Regions from separate parts of the Homo sapiens genome. Here all the other regions are reported to be linked to region 1. The links are microRNA targets in miRTarBase. Many come from high-throughput screens and were not tested one by one. Region 1 holds a microRNA gene; each other region holds the end of a gene's coding sequence.

Region 1 (4,067 bases):
CGTTCACACACACCCTCATTCTCCAGGCAGGCAGCACTTCCTGAACTGCGGTGTGCCGTTGAGAGAGGGTGAAAGCCCCAGTGGCAAATGAGATGGGATTTCTGTTTAGAGTCATAAATTGTTTCATAGAAATATTTGAATATTTGTTAGAAGAGGTACCCAAAACAACTCAGGCAGCCTGGTGCCCGCATGTTTTGGGTAGTGGCCAGAGTCCCCTCTCAAGCCTGCTAGTCCATTCCCCACCCCCTATCCTACTTCCAGACTTGGTAAGTAGGTAGTTTTGGCAATCAGACAGACTTGGTTAAGCCTAGCTTCTGTCACTAGCTGTGTGACACTGGACAAGTAATTGTACCTGACTTCTCTGAACCTGTTTCTTCATCGGTAAAATCATGCACTTCTTTACAGGAGTTGTCAGGAAAATGCAATGAAAGAATAAGGTGAGGGTGGTTTTCAAATGATGACCTGGAGAACCGTAAATCAGACAATCCAGTGTTTGCCAAACTTCATTCACATCCCATCTTCCCAACCTCTGACAAATTTGTGGACCACCTCTACTTCTGTTTACTTAATCTTGTTCTTTAAAAATTATCAACTCACGTTTTGATGGAACTAGGTGTATTCAAAAGGAAACTTTAACCACTGCCATAAATGAGAAATTATCATGTACCCAAGAGTGGTAAAAATAGATACAATAAAACCAAAACAATGCTGTTCAGTTCTAGCTGGCTATGATTATAGGCCAGGGCTCTGAGCTCAAGGAGTTGATTTTGTTAAAAACAACAACAAAAAGGTTATCTCAGTCAAAAAAGGCCACATAAAGCCCTAATATGAAATGTCCAAAATAATCAACTCTATAGAGACAGAAAGTAGATTTGCAGTAGTCTAGAGCTGTAGTGGGAGGAAGGCTTGGGAGTTACTGTTAATGGGTATGGTTTCTTTTAGGGGTAATGAAAATGTTCTAAAATTGACTGTGGTGATATTTGCAAAACTGTGAAGATACTAAGAATCATTGAACTGTACACTTTAAATGGGTGAGTTGTATGGTGTGTGAGTCATCTCTCTCAGTAAAGGTGTTATTTTAAAATACGTATATATGGGCCGGGTGTGATGGCTCAGACCTGTAATCCCAGCATTTGGGGAGGCTGGGGCAGGCAGATCACTTTTGAGCTCAGGAGTTCCAGACCAGCCTGGGCAACATAGCAAAACCCTGTCTCTACTAAAAATACAAAAATTACCCAGGCATGGTAGCAGCAGCCTGTAATCCCAGCTACTCGGGAGGCTGAGGCAGGAGAATCGCTTGAACCTGGGAGGCGGAGGTTGCAGTGAGCCGAGATCGAGTCCCTGCACTCCATCCTGGGCCACAGAGCTACACTGTCTCAAAAAAAAAAAAAATTGTACAGATATATATACACACACACACATATAGAAAAATTATATAATTTTTCCTCCTCTCTCTATATACATATATATATAGATATATGTATACACACACACACACACACACAGAGGAAGGTATAGGTGTCAAACCTTTTTTTTTTTTTTTGAGACAGATTCTTGCTCTGTGGCCCAGGCTAGAGTGCAGTGGTGCGATCTTGGCTCACTGCAACCTCTGCCTCCCGGGTTCAAGGGATTCTCCTGCCTCAGCCTCCCGAGTAGCTGGGATTACAGGTGTGTGGCACCACATCCGTCTAATTTTTGTATTTTTAGTAGAGACAGGGTTTCACCATGTTGGCCAGACTGGTCTTGAACTCCTGACCTCAAGTGATCTGCCCGACGTGGCCTCTTAAAGTGCTAGGATTACAGGCGTGAGCCACTGAGCCCAGCCTAAATTCAATTATTAAACTCCTTGAGTTAATTAAAGGGTAGCCAGGTGCGGTGGCTCATGCCTGTAATCCCAGCACTTTCAGAGGCCGAGGCAGGAGGATCGCTTGAGCCCAGGAGTTCCAGACCAGCCTGGACAACATAGCGAGATCCTGACTCTACAAAAAACAGAAAAATTAGCCGGGCGTGGTGGCGCGTGTTTGTAGTCCCAGACACTCCTGAGGTTGAGGTGGGAGGATCACCTGAGCCCTCGGGAGGTCGAAGCTGCAGTGAGCGGAGATCGCACCGCTGCACTCCAGCCTGGGGGACAGTGAGGCGGTCTCAAAACAAAACAAAAACAAAAGGGGAGGGCGGGGGGAAGACTTAAAGACCCCTGAGCCAGGGCCATTATTATTTAACTTGGTCGGGTCTCTGAACCATTCGGAGGAAGCTTGGGTTTCTATCCTTCCCGACTGAGCCACAGACCTGAGTCTTGACTCCGGATAAATCACCCCAGACTGTTTTTCTGTCTGTGACACGGGAACGGCAGCTTCTGCCTCGCGAGGTGGAGAGAGAATGAGAAGCGCCGTGTGTGGCGCGCCTGACACGGTCAGCTCGCGGGTGGAGGCCCGGAGCAGAACGCCCTCGGGCGCCCGCTCTTGCAGCCGCACTGGAGACCGGGAATGGCTCCGGCCACGCCTCTGCCGACTGCGGCAACGCGAGGGACAGCTGGTCTCCGGGGTTGCAGCGTAACGCCCTCCTTCCCGGCCTCATCTTTCCTGACTGCATAACGGGCATACAGTGGGTTCCATGGCGCAAGGGAGCTGAAGAAGCCGCCCGCCCCCAGCTCGCCCGGGATCCTCACGCCCCTATAACGCCCCGAGGGGCCACGATGCTGCCCACAGCCCAGATCGCGAGTGCGGACCCTGCGGGAGGGTCTGGCCTAGATGCGAGTTTCCCGCCGCAGACCAGGCGAGGCCACGCGACATATCCCCTACCCGCTTACTGCAGGCCGCAGACGGAGACAGTGCAGCCCTGCGCACTGCTGAGGTTGCCCGAGGTCTCAGCCTCGGCGGGTCGGGAACACGCGGCGCGCGCCCGCGCCCCAACCGGAAGTCCGCCACCGGCCGCTCTAGCACGCGCAGGGCTGCGTCTGTGGCCTTAACCCTTCCCAAGGCTGCGCCGCCGGCCTTTGTCTCCGCGGAGCGTCACAAAGGTTGGAAGGGTCGCGGGGCCTCTGGGTGCCGAGCTGCAGATGCCTCCACTGCGAGCACAGCCCTGAGACAAGGGCCCAGGCGCCCAGCGGGGCTGGTTTCACTCAGTCCAGCCGCACCTACCCGTGCCCTCACCAGATCTTAAGATACAGACATTAAAACCTCCACCGGGCCGCGGCACAGGACAGCAGTTTTACTTTCTGTTTTTGGCATTGCATTGCCTCCATTTCCTAGAGTGCACGTAATAAATACCGCTGGTGATTCCAAAATATAAAGGTTGAAAATATTTACTTTACAAAAATTTGGTTCCCATACTGCTTTTAAGGCCATCCTCTGCACTTGGTTCCCGCTGCTCCTGATGTGGTTGAAAGATGGATGACCCCAAAGACGAGGAAAAGATTATTGGCTCCATTTTTTAGATGCGGCAGCCAGCTAAGGTCTAGACAGGGGAAGGGACTTGCCCCAAATCACAGTTAGAGCAAATCAGTCTGAATCAGGAATAACTCCATTCCTATCCCGCATCCTGCCCTTTCACTACGCCACAGCTGCCTGGCTGCCTGGAGGAACAAAGGAGGGCCGGGCAAGAACGCCATTACCAACTGCAAATCCACAGGCAAATGCAAGAGGACAGAAAGTAAGTTCTTGGGCTCTGCCCTTGTGCCGTACCCGGAGGGGTTCTGGGGTCACCAGCCAGGTGCATCCCTGCCTTCACAGCCATGCACAGCGACACCCAGTTAACTAATGGGGGGGATTATGCCACTTGCTGGGTATGCCTGTGCCACCAGTGCACTCACTCTGTGCCTGGGGAAATAACCACGGATGAATCTGGGGATCCCCTGGGCCCACTGTGAAATGGACCTGAGCTAAAACTCCATTGATCACAGGACCTCAGGGATCTTTTGGGTCTCGAGAACAGAATTGGATGCTACAGGAGAAATGTAACCAGAAAAGGATTAGGATTTTGCCAGTAGAGAAAGGGAGATGTGCTTGCTTTCATTCATTTATCATTAATGAGCACCTACTGTATGCCAGGCACCACACTAGGCCCTAGGA
Region 2 (4,054 bases), not on the chromosome of region 1:
TACAGGTGTGAGCCACCGTGCCCGGCCAGGACTTACTTTAGATAGGTCCTACTTTGGCTTTTGACTGGGAGAAAGATGCTCTCTTTTCTGCTGGCGGTCATCTTGGGACACCCACCCCACCCCAGTCTCAAGGGAGCTATCAACCAGGTCTTTAGGAATAATTGGGATCTGCTGGATCAGCCCTCACCTGAAACTGGTTGAGCTTTAAGATGGCCTTCATCTGGTCGGGTGCGGTGGCTCATGCCTGTAATCCCAGCACTTTGGGAGGCCGAGGTGGGCGGATCATGAGGTCAGGAGATCAAGACTATCCTAACACGGTGAAACCCCATCTCTACTAAAAATACAAAAAATTAGCCGGGCATGGTGGCAGGTGCCTGTAGTCCCAGCTACTCGGGAGGCTGAGGCAGGAGAATGGTGTGAACCCGGGAGGCTGAGCTTGCAGTGAGCCGAGATCACACCACTGCACTCCAGCCTGAGCGACAGAGACTCCGTCTCAAAAAAAAAAAAAAAAAAAAAAAAAGATGACCTTCATCTTAAGAGGGCCGTTTTTCCTACTTCATTATTTTTCTTCCATCCATGGGACTCTGATATGTTTTTCCTCCTTTAGAGGGCTGTTGTGTAAACAGGCAGTGCATTTAACCACAGAAAATGGTGCCTGGCATACAGTAGGTGCTCAATAAATGCTCACTAGTACTGTGTCTCCCAGGAGACAGCTTTGAGAGCACCTGCTGATTCAAACCCACTCCTTTGATGCAACACCAAACAGGCATACAACAGCCCAACAGCTGTCACCTGTGGGACTGTCCAGTCCCAAATGAAACAAGACAGCAGGTGTGTGAAGGCAAGAGATGGGAGACACCCACCCTCGGGAGAAGAGCCCTCCAACCCAATGCACCATGGAAGCAGCATGCGGTGCCCCACAGCAGGGCCTCTCCCCACTGCCACGTGAGGCGGGCGCACAGGGATTAACCGGACGTTCATATCGACAGCTCAATCCTTATCCCCAAGGGGGCCTGAAACCTGCCTGGCACATGGCAGGGGCTCAGCAAAATCCCATGGACCCAGCTAACGGGGTGGTGCTTTCTGGTGGGGGTTTGACTGTTCTGATATGGAGAAAACCAGAATTTTAGAATGGAACAAGTTTACACAAGGAGGTGAGATGAGATGGCAGATAAAGGAAAACAAAAAAGGGCCAGGCGTGGTGGCTCACACCTATAATCCCAGCACTTTAGGAGGCCGAGGCGAGTGGATCACAAGGTCAGGAGTTTGAGACCAGCATGGCCAATATGGTGAAACCCCGTCTCTGCTAAAAATACACAATTAGCCAGGCATGGTGGTGTATGCCTGTAGTCCCAGATGCTCAGGAGGCTGAGGCAGGAGAATCACTTGAACCCGGGAGGCAGCGGTTGCAGTGAGCCGAGATGGCGTCACTGCACTCCAGCCTGGGTGACAGAGCAAGACTCCATCTCAAAAAAAAAAAAAAAAAAAATGTAGAGACAGAGGTCTTACTATGTTGCCCAGGCTTCCCAAGGTGCTGAGATTACAGATGTGAGCCACCGTACCCAGCCTATTTTTTATTTTTGTAAAGACAGGCTCTCACTATGTTGCCCAGGCTTTTTTTCAAAGAGCAACATACTGTTTTTCAAATGAAATTTTACACAAAGCCCCAGTATGTAACATAGAGGCCAGGTGCAGTGGTTCATGCTTGTAATTCCAGCACTTTGGGAGGCTGAGGTGGGAGGATCGCTTGAGTTCAGGAGTTTGAGACCAGCCTGGCCAACATGGCAAAACCTGCCTCTACAGAAAATACAAAAATTAGCTGGGCATAGTGGCAGGTGCCTGTAATCTCAGCTACTCAGGAGGCTGAAGCAGAATTGTTTGAACCCAGGAGGCAGAGGTTGCAGTGAGCTGAGATCGCGCCATTGCACTCCAGCCTGGGGGACAGGGTGAGACTCTGTCTCAAAAAAAAAAAAAAAGCCCCAGTATGTAACACAGAAACCCCTCTGGCTAGGGGAGGTGGCCCTAGGGCTCTCTGTTCACTCACACCAATGCCATGGACTGACTCACCCACCTCCGACTTCCCCAGTTAACCCACGCCAAGGACGCATCAGGCAGGCCATTCTCTTTGAGTATCTTTTTAATGACTTAAACACCAGCACGGAGACTCGCCATGTAAACGGCCTCATTTCTGTGCTCTGTGCTTTGGGAGGGACAGGGACACCATTTCCCACCTCGGCTGAGTTAAAACCTGTCTTGTAAATTAATAAATAATTTCCTAACACGGCAAAAAAAAAAAAAAATCCAAACGAGACCTAGTTTCCATCCAGGGACAGGATATTTCTGGACACCCCCGGTCACTGCTCCTCCTAAGGGCCTGGCCGTGGCTACTGCAGGGAGGATGCAGTGAGAATGGCTTCCCTGCTGCTGTTTGCTGCTGTCTACGCTGGCCAAGAACCTGCTCCCGTCTGCCTGGGCTGATGGAGTCTCGCTCTTGACAAAAATCTTGCTGGGGCAGGTCCTCTGGCAGCCCCAGCACCTTACCCTGAGTCACGGGAACCTGAGACTTTGTCCAAACCTCGGCTGGAAGGCTGGTCTTGGCACTCGACGTCTTAGCTAGTGGATTTATCGCATTAAGACTGTACTTGGGCCTTTTTCATGATGACTTGGGTCTCAATCCTTGGAGCAGCTGAAAGAACAGCTCGGGCCACCTGTGGATGCACCCACAATGAAATCAGAGGCCACTGCAAGGCAGAGTGGCCTGCAGTTTTAACTCGGGCACTATGGCAATGCAGACCCAAACCAATTGTGCCAGTTCTTTGCTGGGTGGCAAAGTGTTTTCAGGCTTTGTGGTCACTCCTGATTTCTGTTTGGAAGCACAGTTCTCTCTCTAAGGAGAATGGAAACTTGGAAAGGCCTGTAAAATCGGAAAGCCTGTAAAAGGCCGTAGAGTGGAGATGTATAAAAATGTACGGTCACCCATGTTTTAGGGGTTGACACCGTGGACTTTTATCTCGCTCACCAAATTCCTCACACATACAGCTCACTCCCTGTGCCCTCGGCCATCTCAGGCACCACAAAATCCTCACTGCTTGAAATTCACTTATGGAGTCCAACAAACAACTTTCTTAAAAAAAAAAAAAAAGGCAGTAAAATCTCAGAATTTCTGTGCAACGCTTGCAACCTGCCCACTTATTAAATAAACAGAACACCAAACCAACCGAAAGCTATGCAAGTGGCAGGCTGCCCTGGGCAGAGCCCTGCCTGTCTGCCAGGGACTACGGTGGCACGGGAGCAGGGCGCGATCATGCTGGAAGAAATGAGAGGTGGTCTCATTCCCTGAATCTCAAACTCTCATCTCAGGAGCCCCCAGTCCTAACACTGTATTCAGCGGCTGGAGTTATCTGGCCAGGTAAAGGGACGAGGGAAGGCAGACAGTCCTCAACTTCTTCCTGTGTTTCTAGCAGGGAAGGAACGCAATGGCTTCAGTCCCTCCGCCTCTAGGTAACAAGGCAAAGGCCTCCCTAACCCAGGCAGACAGGATGTGGGGAAGGTCTTGTGTCTTTTCCTAACTCAGAATGAGTGAGCGGGCTCCCGGAGAAAGACTGTCCTCTTAGCACATGACCCCGCAGGCTTCTAGCACCAAAGGCTCGCTAACACCTCCGACCCTGTCTGCAGGTAGAGGGGATGGGAGGCAGAACCCTTCTCCTGATTGGTGCCTGAAGGAGGCAAGAACGAGCATCTGCTATGCCGCAGCCGGATTTCCCCCATCTCAGCAGGAGAGGGGAGAGGTGAGGGTGCAGGCGTTCTGGGCAGGTCAGTGCAGTTCGATGAACGCCTCCAGATCTTCCGGGATGAAGCCCTTGTAAGGGATCTTGTTCTTATCCAGGGCCCGGGCCGCAAGGCACTGCAGGGTCACGTAGTTGAAGGGCTGCATGGTACCCCTGGCCAGCAGCTTCTCGTCCAGCAGCTCGTAGGCCGTCTTCTTGAAGGCATTGGTGGCGTCCATGTGGGCCCCTGCTTCGATCAGGGCATTCATGATGGCCGGGCAGTTGTT
Region 3 (4,054 bases), not on the chromosome of region 1:
GAAAATTTAGGGTAGAGCACTCTTTACAGAAGAACTCAAAAACCCAATTTGGATAATTTTCATTATCTTTTTAGCAAAATGGTTTCTTAATGTTTATATTTTATTTTCAAGGTTCATTGTTTAATGAAATATTTTATTCTTGCATTTCCATAAGGAAAGGGAAAGTCATGATCATCCTAAAGGATCACAGTTTTTAAAAGGCAAACATTTTCCCTAAGGAAACAGACACAAGCTTTCCTAGAGAATATGATGTTTTTTAGGCATTAATAAGGTCCTTTTTTATAAAGGACACTTTTCTCCTAGTAGTTTTGAATTCAGGAACAGATCCAAAGTTAGCAGTATATGGCTGCTACATTTCCATTTTCATTTTCGAGCCATCAGTTTATGTTCAGATGCCATCTCTGTAATCGCACATTTAAAACATAACTGTAGCCTCACTAATGGAAAAGTAGTATGATGAACAATCATTCCCAATGGTGTACAATGTAAGGGTTTTAGGGAGCAACAGTATTTAACTGGAAGAAAGAATTGCATATTTAATGTAGTCTAATATATACACATTTGTTTAACATGTAAACAAAAGTGTTAAATTCACATATACAACATTATACAATTTAATCACTCTTGGAATAAAATTTTTATAGCCTTTTTTCTATTGGGAAAATTTGTTTAGATGTGTGCCACTCCATAGGTTTATTTCCAAAATGAATGAGCCCAACTCCATTTGTAAAAACTTGTCAGTTAGAATTCCTTTTTTTAGTGGATTAGGGCTGAATTCTTAGATCCTTATTTCTTTTCACTTTAAATGCTGCCAAAGATCACTACTCATCATTCAGGAATTCGCTGTCTAGCCTATCTGTAGTTTCCTGAAGATTGAAAATTATGTAGACTGCTATTTAAAAATATATTTTTCTAAGTGTGAGGTTTAAGATGCTGTATTGACCCTATGAGTTTTTAATGTGTTAATTATCTTTATAGCATAATAGATCGCTTTAGGTTCCTGGAATCCCATTTGGTCTGACAGGATATATGAAGATTCTTAATACCTATTTTCTGTGTCTAATACTTGGTTAATACTAAAAATAGAAATGACTAAATTACATCACAGAAAGCATAACCAGTGATTGAACCTGGTAGTTTTAAAGCTCTAAATAGCTGTGGCTGAAGGACTGATTATGGGGCTAAGAAGCTTGAAACGTAAGTTGGTACTTGTTCATCAGTGGATTCTCCTAAATTAAGCCAAATTTTGAAATACATGACTATTAAGTTTCTACTCATGTATTTACAGTCAGTCAATAAATTAAAGGAGGAAAAAAATCCCTGAACAACCTGCCCATAAAAAGAAAAATACTCTACATTTGAGCCTGCTGCAGTTTTAAATTTTCCCTCTGGGTCAAGTTTGCCAGCTTTTGGCTACAGAGAAATTATATTTCCATTACAGTGCAGGTAGAAACTCTGTAACCTTAAGCATGTAAACTACATAGAATAAAACTGTTTCCACTGCATTTCTGTCCTTCAAAGTGGCCAACCTGATTAAGTCAGCCTTAATCACTGCTGCTGTCAGTTTCACGACTAAAGGTCATATTGACTAAGTAGTCATCAGCTGACCACCTCGCTGTATCAGCCAGCAACGAGGGGAAGGTGAAGAAACATGATAGGCCATATAGAATCTGCCCTATGTTTACTTTTTTAACCCAGATAATTATTTTTGTGTGCAGTATCTAAGCTCCTGATTGTGTAACCTGGGACTTCTGGCACCTTTTGTTCCATTCATTTTATGTATAAAATGCATGCCAAAGCACACTGTGCCCTCTGGTACCCTTGCTTCCAATCGCCAACCATGCTCATTTCCTTCCTTTTTTTGTGGTCCCTTTTTGTGGTGATCATTTTAAACCACGTCATCCAACAAATGTTTTATGGTCAACCTTAGCTTGTTCATAAGCCATAGCAACTGAAAGATTAAACTCTTAAATATGTGTCTGGGCAGTGGCTATTAAATAGCAAAAAACAATCAGATTTTAGTATTTTATTATTTCCTTGTAAAATGGCTGAACTAAATTAAACCCTTGTTTCCCATTTGTTCTATAATTTATAGTGAAACTGAGAACAAAACTATCTTTATAAATGATAGCTAAAAGTATTTCCAGATATTTAAACAATTTAAAATAAATTTCTTCTGCAGAGATGCAAAGCATCTCAACACTGGAATGAACAAATGCCTTAAATTCAATGGAGTAAACCTTTAGAATGAAGAGGAACTGTCATTTCACCCAAGCCGAAGACAACAGCCTTATGCACTTGTGTGCTCTGTCTTTGCTGCTTCTCGTGTTTCAAGCCTTTCCTGTGGGATCAGCACAGCAAAGTGCAACTTACCAAATGGTTTAATGACTGGTTAATTCTTTCTTCTCCCAATGGAAAAGCAATGGCAACACAACAGTAGACTGCTGGCTTGACAATCTTAAACGTGAGCCTTTGCACATGTAGGTTTATCATCATTTGAGTATACGACTAAGCAAGTCAATGAACTTTTTTTTTTTTTTTAGCAGTTTAATTTGGTCCTGAGAATGTTGCAGTCTTTATTACCCCTTTTGCATTAATCCACTTTTCTAACCACCTTTTAAGCTTTAATTTTTAACACTATACACCAAGTCTTTGAAATCAGTGATCTGTTATTTAACTCTAAAGCATTTGACACTTCTTGCCTTAACAGTTTTAAAAACCACACACAAAAAAACTCTGTAAGTAATACAGTAGGCCAAAAGTTTCATCCTATCTATCTTGCAGTTTACCTATCTGATCTGATCTCTGTAATTATAGTTCTGTCATTTAAAATATACTATTTAAATCTAATTTTTACATTTCAAAAATTATCTTCAGTAGTAACTAAGTATATTTTCTGTGGATTCTGAGAATGTTATTTTTCAGAATGTGAGAATATATATGTACATTTATAATCTTGTGACTTTAAAGTCTGTTTTCAGATACAGTATGTAAATACTTGTAAAAAAATTTGTATAATTTTGTGATAATGTAGTTTCCCAAAAAAATTATTTAGAAGGCATTATGTTATTAGTAAATGAGAGCACTGTATAGAACTGTTCCTATTTTCTGCACTTGCCATTCCAGCTGCCTCCACTGTCCATACCCACCTCATTCATCCTGTCACAGAAGGCAGGAAAACTGGGAACTTTACCAAAGTAGCACTCAGCCTGAGAGGCCTGTATAATCATGCTTTTCAAACTAAATTCACTTAAAAATTAAAAAGCAGAATTGAATATTTTAAGCAGCCTCAGTACCTTTGGCCAATGCTGTTTTCATGGTGGATTATGAACATTATATAATCTTTGGGAAAAGTGAAAGTAGTACAATTTTTAGAATAATGACAACTGCCTCACTGCATCTCTCCACTCACACAGCAACCGTGTAGCCCCCTAAGCTGCAGTACCATGACTAACCATGATGTCAATTTCATATGCTGATCCTCACAACAGCAGTGCACAAACATGCCCCAAATATTTTAACAGAATTTAGCTCTTCCTTAAGCTGTCTTTTCATAGTAAAAACAAAACAAAAACACCCAATGTTAAAACCACATAATAAACTTACAAACTTGAAAAATTAGACACTTCAGATAGATAGGCAATAAAACTTCATATTATGAAAGCAATATATTCCAAGTTTCAAAGATTTGACAAGTTCTGTAGAGTATCTTTCATCAGTACATGAAAACTTCCAAACTGCATGATCTTCTGCCAGGCAGGACTGGGTGCTATTCGCTGAATGAACAGAACCAAAAATTGTTTTAATTATCTGCTTTGTATCCATATATACCATATATCTCAGTTTAAAAAGTTGACTAGTTTTAAGCAATAAATATTTGGTCATAAGATTACAATATAAATGGCAGATTTTTAAAAATAATTCAATTATGTCAGGTAGATAAAAGATAATACCATATGTAATTAAATTTTCTGGCCACACTAAAATATTTTGAAACTTCCTTTCAGTATCTCCCAGTTGCTAATGTCGAAGAAAATGGATGTGAAATTCAAGT
Region 4 (4,054 bases), not on the chromosome of region 1:
AAAACACAACAACAAAAAAAACAAAACAAACAAAACAAAATAAAACAAAAAAACAAGAAAAAAATTTAAGCGCATTTTTATGCAAATATCCCACTAACTTCAACAAGACTTCTCCCTCTAATCTGCCTACTTCCAAATTACTGAGGTTTTAGCCATGCTTTAATAGCAGAAAATAATCAAATATACATGTGCATAAAGTACCTCTAGCTTTATATACCATTCTGCAGGATACAGCAACACGGACTTAATAGATGGCAGTGCTTATCTATTCAAATGAATAGAAGAGTCCAAAGATATATTGGTATATTTAATACGATTAAATGATTACGACATTTAATATGACTAATTTCATTTCATTGATAGTATAATTTCAGCGGCCATTTCAAGTCTATTACGCCCAAAATGAGAATTCAGGGTCTAAGTTCATATTTATTCAGCATTCCTACCTATTTTTAATAGTTTTGATCAAAGTGGCACTTTTATCCTTAGACATACTTCTACTTCTTCCTTCTTTTTTGCCATGCTTTATGCCATTATCATGAATTCCTCCCTGGGTGGTGGAGCCCTTGCCAGTATCTGCGCTTTTATTGCAGAATCTGCCCCCAAAGTAACCAGAATCCCTTTTCTGCATCTCACAGCATAACCTGTTTGTCCATGATGTAAGAAGGACATCACTTAACACACACACACACAGAGCACACACATACTGGGTCACAGCAAGCTCATGTGCACATGCACACATACTCAGGAAATGTACACTTCAGATCACAGAAGCTCCCTGGCCTAGTTCTCCCAGATGCCATTCAGATGCTGCCTTGGCATGGCATCCTTACTGAACCTCCCTTCCTCCACAGAACACCTACTCATATGTCCTCAACTTCCACCCCAGAAAGGTCATTCCCAGATCTAATCACAGCCCAGATTCTCTTCCTGGCCCTTTCCTGTAACTAATCATCAAAGTTCTGACCCAGGGCACAGTAAAAGCAGCAGACTGGACTCGCTATGAAGGCAGAGATCACATTTTATTCAAAGATGTTTCTGTAACTCCACTCAGCATAACTGGGCCATAATCAGTTTGGAATAAATGACTTTTGGTCTCACTGGATCCTTTACCTTTTAGATCTTGCTCACTTTTCCACATTTATCCCCAATTCAAGGCCTTTCTAGTTAGGAAGAAAGTGTAATTATCTGGCCTCACACATATTATGTCTCAAATATAATCTCTCTCTTCCAAGGGGTTTTGTATATTTTCCAAGGAGACTGGGAGAAGTGATCAATGAATTCTAAATAACCAGCTGTCTCCTTGATTCAGATTTGGAGGCGGCAGCTCCCTGAAGAGCCCCAGATCTCATTTCCACCCAAGCCTCAGCCTCTTTTATTAAGTCATACGCAACCCTGTCCCCACCCTCCAGAAACAGCTATCCTAGGGGTGAGATATAACTCCTACCCTGAACTTTGCCTGTCCACCACGTAAAACAGCTTTGTTTCTTGCTTCATATAAGACTCCAAAAAGTAAATGGGGTCTTATCATGCTCTCATTTCCATTCTCCCTGAACCTGCTCTGCTCCTCTTCACGCTGACATTTTCCTACTAAAGCCAGGCTCAGAGTCAGAGACTTGCTTTCTGAGACTTCTGTTCCCTGGCCCAGGAGTAACAGCCCATGGTTTGCTGAGTGCTCACCATGTAGCAGGGAAAGTTCTAAATGCTTCATGGGTATGATCTCATTTAATCCGCACCTATGAGGTGATTAATATGAAGACCCATATCTCATTTAATCAACACTGAGGTTTACCAGTACAAATACAATATCTTGCCTCAAAAGGCCTTAAACAGTACGGAAATGTGTTATCTAAATTAATTAAAGGTTATAAAGTCAAGTTGGCTCCAGACATGGTACAATGAGGACATCTGGACAGATATAAAAGAGAACTCTGAACCCCTCATATCCTCCTAAACCTTTCTAAGAGGCAGTCCTCTCAAATCCCCAACCAAGCTGCTCTGCATTAAACATTTCAATGACTTAACCTGGAGCAATGGCCTCACACAGGTATGCAGCTTCTTCTCAGCAGCCACCCCCTTCACTGCTCTGAACCCTCCAGGCCCAGAGATCTCAGCATAGCCCCTAGATAGCAGTACAAGGTCTGATTTAAGAGATAACCAAGCATCTTGCTAATTTCCATAGGGAGGAATCTGGGACACATCTATGAGTGGGAATTCTAAGGATGTCTGTCCAAGGAGAACGAAATGTTTGTTAAGATCAGGCTATATCTTTATGGGTGCACTTGCCCAGGATCCGGGACTTAATGTTAGCTGGAGCACCTGAAAGTGACATGTTGGCTATTTGGAGTTTGAAAGTGACAATCTACTATGTTGGCTCTCTGGAGTCTGAACTCAACAGCTGCACATAGGCAATAAGGATTAAGGGGCAGAACTTCCCTGGCACAGTGTTAAGGAATCCAAAAGCTCAGAGAATTAGGAGCATTACATATATATGTCCAGGTTTACGCCTATTGTTATGGTCTAATTATTAATACTGCTCTCTTTGCCGTCTGCTCAGCCAACCCTTAACCACGCCACCCTGGAGGACCCAGAGAACACACCCTTTGCCAGGGCTTTAAGAAATGCGTTGGTGAAGGGAGCATCAGAACCCTGACAAAGCCCTGAGGTAGCTGTCCCCAGCAGCCTGGAGATGACAGCGGGGAATACTAGGATTGGTTGTATTCCCTGATTTCCACGGGAATAATGGTAGTCAGAGTGACAGTGGTAGAGGCCAGTGATAGCACTTAACCATTAAAAGACAATCATTTCTTTTTTTAGTGCTTGATATTTATTGAAAATAATGCCAATGCTTTTTCCAGGTAGTATTGAGGAGCTGGGCTGAGTGCTTGTTTGTTTTGTTTTTAAGTACTATTTGTCCAAATGCACACATCTGTGGGACTGCTGCAATTTTGAAAGAAAAATGACAGCTGTGTAAAACCAGTGCATAGGAAAAAAGAAGTGTCAACAATTTGGCTGCCAGGCACACCGCGCCCCTGCAGCAATCTGGTGGGGCAGGGGAGGACACTCGGAGTAGGTAGAAAACTAACCAGGCTGAACGGCCCCTTCAGGGGTTGGTGAGCTGTCCAAATCAATGTCTGAAAAGGCATAGCCAACTCTGGCATTTTCCAGGTTGGTCCTGATCTCGAAAGGTGGTAGTCTGTAGGTGGGATGTGGTGAGTGGATGTGAAGTGGCAGCATAGTTCTCTGGGAAGATGTAAGCCTGGCAGCAGGGCAGGTGGCAGCAGCAGGGCTACGGGTGGTCTGCGCAGTTTGTAACAGGGGCCTGGCCAATAGCTGGGGTTCAGGACACAGTTCAGATTAGCAGGGGAGGGATCCCGGGGATGGCCAGGGTAGATGACACTTCCAAGCACTTCCGAGTGAGTGAGGCTCCAGCCCCGACCCCAGCAGCAGGTAACTGGAGCGCTATTCCTGGAACAAAGACAAGCACTACGGAGAAATGAAGAGAGAGAGCAGACGGGCGCGGGTAGGTAAGGGGACCGGAGGGCAAGGGGGAGAGCAGTGGCTCCTGGCGGGGTGAGGGCTGCGGGGAGGGGGTGGCGGCGTGCAGGGCCCTCCCCCCCGAGGCCCGAGGGTCGAGGGCCTAATAATCATCCTCCTCTTCTTCGTCGTCGTCGTCTTCGTCGTCATCCCAGCCAAAGCACTGTTTCATCTCATCGAGGAAGGCCCGGTAATCACCTAGGATGGGGCTATCCATCTCGATGTAGGGCACCACCCACTCCTCGGCTTCCCCGGTGAGGAGGCTGATTAGGAATGCCACCTTCATGGCGTCGTTGCAGAATCGGTTCTCGTTCACGAGCATGTAAGACGCCGTCTGCACGATAAACTCGGGGAGCCGGGAGCTCTCGCCATTAAACGTTTCGGGGAAGGGCACCGGGCAGCTCGGCGGACGTACCTGGCGCAGCAGGCTGGCCCTCTCGCACACCAGCAGCCGCAGCTGTTCCATGAGCTGGCTGTTCTCGATGCTCAGGGCGCGGTGCCGCATCAGGAGCGCGTG

Evidence for each region. The annotated mature microRNA hsa-miR-4519 reads CAGCAGUGCGCAGGGCUG and lies in region 1 at 2,831-2,848, opposite strand. An mRNA with a match to its seed (bases 2 to 7 or 8) in the 3' UTR can be bound and repressed. Matches are read on the target gene's strand: a 7mer-m8 pairs with bases 2 to 8, a 7mer-A1 pairs with bases 2 to 7 and ends in A, and an 8mer does both.
Region 2: miRTarBase lists FEM1A as a target of hsa-miR-4519. The part of its 3' UTR that is shown has no 7-base or 8-base seed match.
Region 3: miRTarBase lists ZC3H14 as a target of hsa-miR-4519. Seed matches in the 3' UTR shown: 7mer-m8 at 3,490-3,496, 7mer-A1 at 2,541-2,547 and 7mer-A1 at 334-340.
Region 4: the mRNA of LDOC1 is a reported target of hsa-miR-4519. Seed matches in the 3' UTR shown: 7mer-m8 at 3,555-3,561 and 7mer-A1 at 2,128-2,134.

The regions. Positions count from the first base shown.
Region 1 is chr16:30,872,471-30,876,537 of GRCh38, forward strand. It overlaps MIR4519 (microRNA 4519), which reads right to left and starts at 2,853; the gene lies at 2,796-2,853. MIR762HG (MIR762 host gene) reads left to right here and starts at 2,990. Exons shown (of 3, transcript NR_110942.1): 1 at 2,990-3,016; 2 at 3,560-3,648. It also overlaps a transcript of BCL7C not described here. RefSeq lists enhancers at 1,518-2,273, 2,274-3,028, 2,563-2,822, 3,029-3,783, 3,093-3,302 and 1 more and a silencer at 3,703-3,762.
Region 2 is chr19:4,793,625-4,797,678 of GRCh38, reverse strand. It overlaps FEM1A (fem-1 homolog A), which reads right to left. Exons shown (of 1, transcript NM_018708.3): 1 at 1-4,054. The coding sequence ends at 3,815. Among named protein-coding and RNA genes, the nearest start is that of FEM1A, 3.9 kb to the right of the region's middle.
Region 3 is chr14:88,611,467-88,615,520 of GRCh38, reverse strand. ZC3H14 (zinc finger CCCH-type containing 14) reads right to left here. Exons shown (of 17, transcript NM_024824.5): 17 at 1-3,776. The coding sequence ends at 3,770. It overlaps EML5 (EMAP like 5), which reads left to right. Exons shown (of 44, transcript NM_183387.3): 44 at 1-3,090. Among named protein-coding and RNA genes, the nearest start is that of ZC3H14, 50 kb to the right of the region's middle.
Region 4 is chrX:141,172,941-141,176,994 of GRCh38, forward strand. LDOC1 (LDOC1 regulator of NFKB signaling) reads right to left here. Exons shown (of 1, transcript NM_012317.4): 1 at 295-4,054. The coding sequence ends at 3,641. Among named protein-coding and RNA genes, the nearest start is that of LDOC1, 2.2 kb to the right of the region's middle. RefSeq lists an enhancer at 3,254-3,753.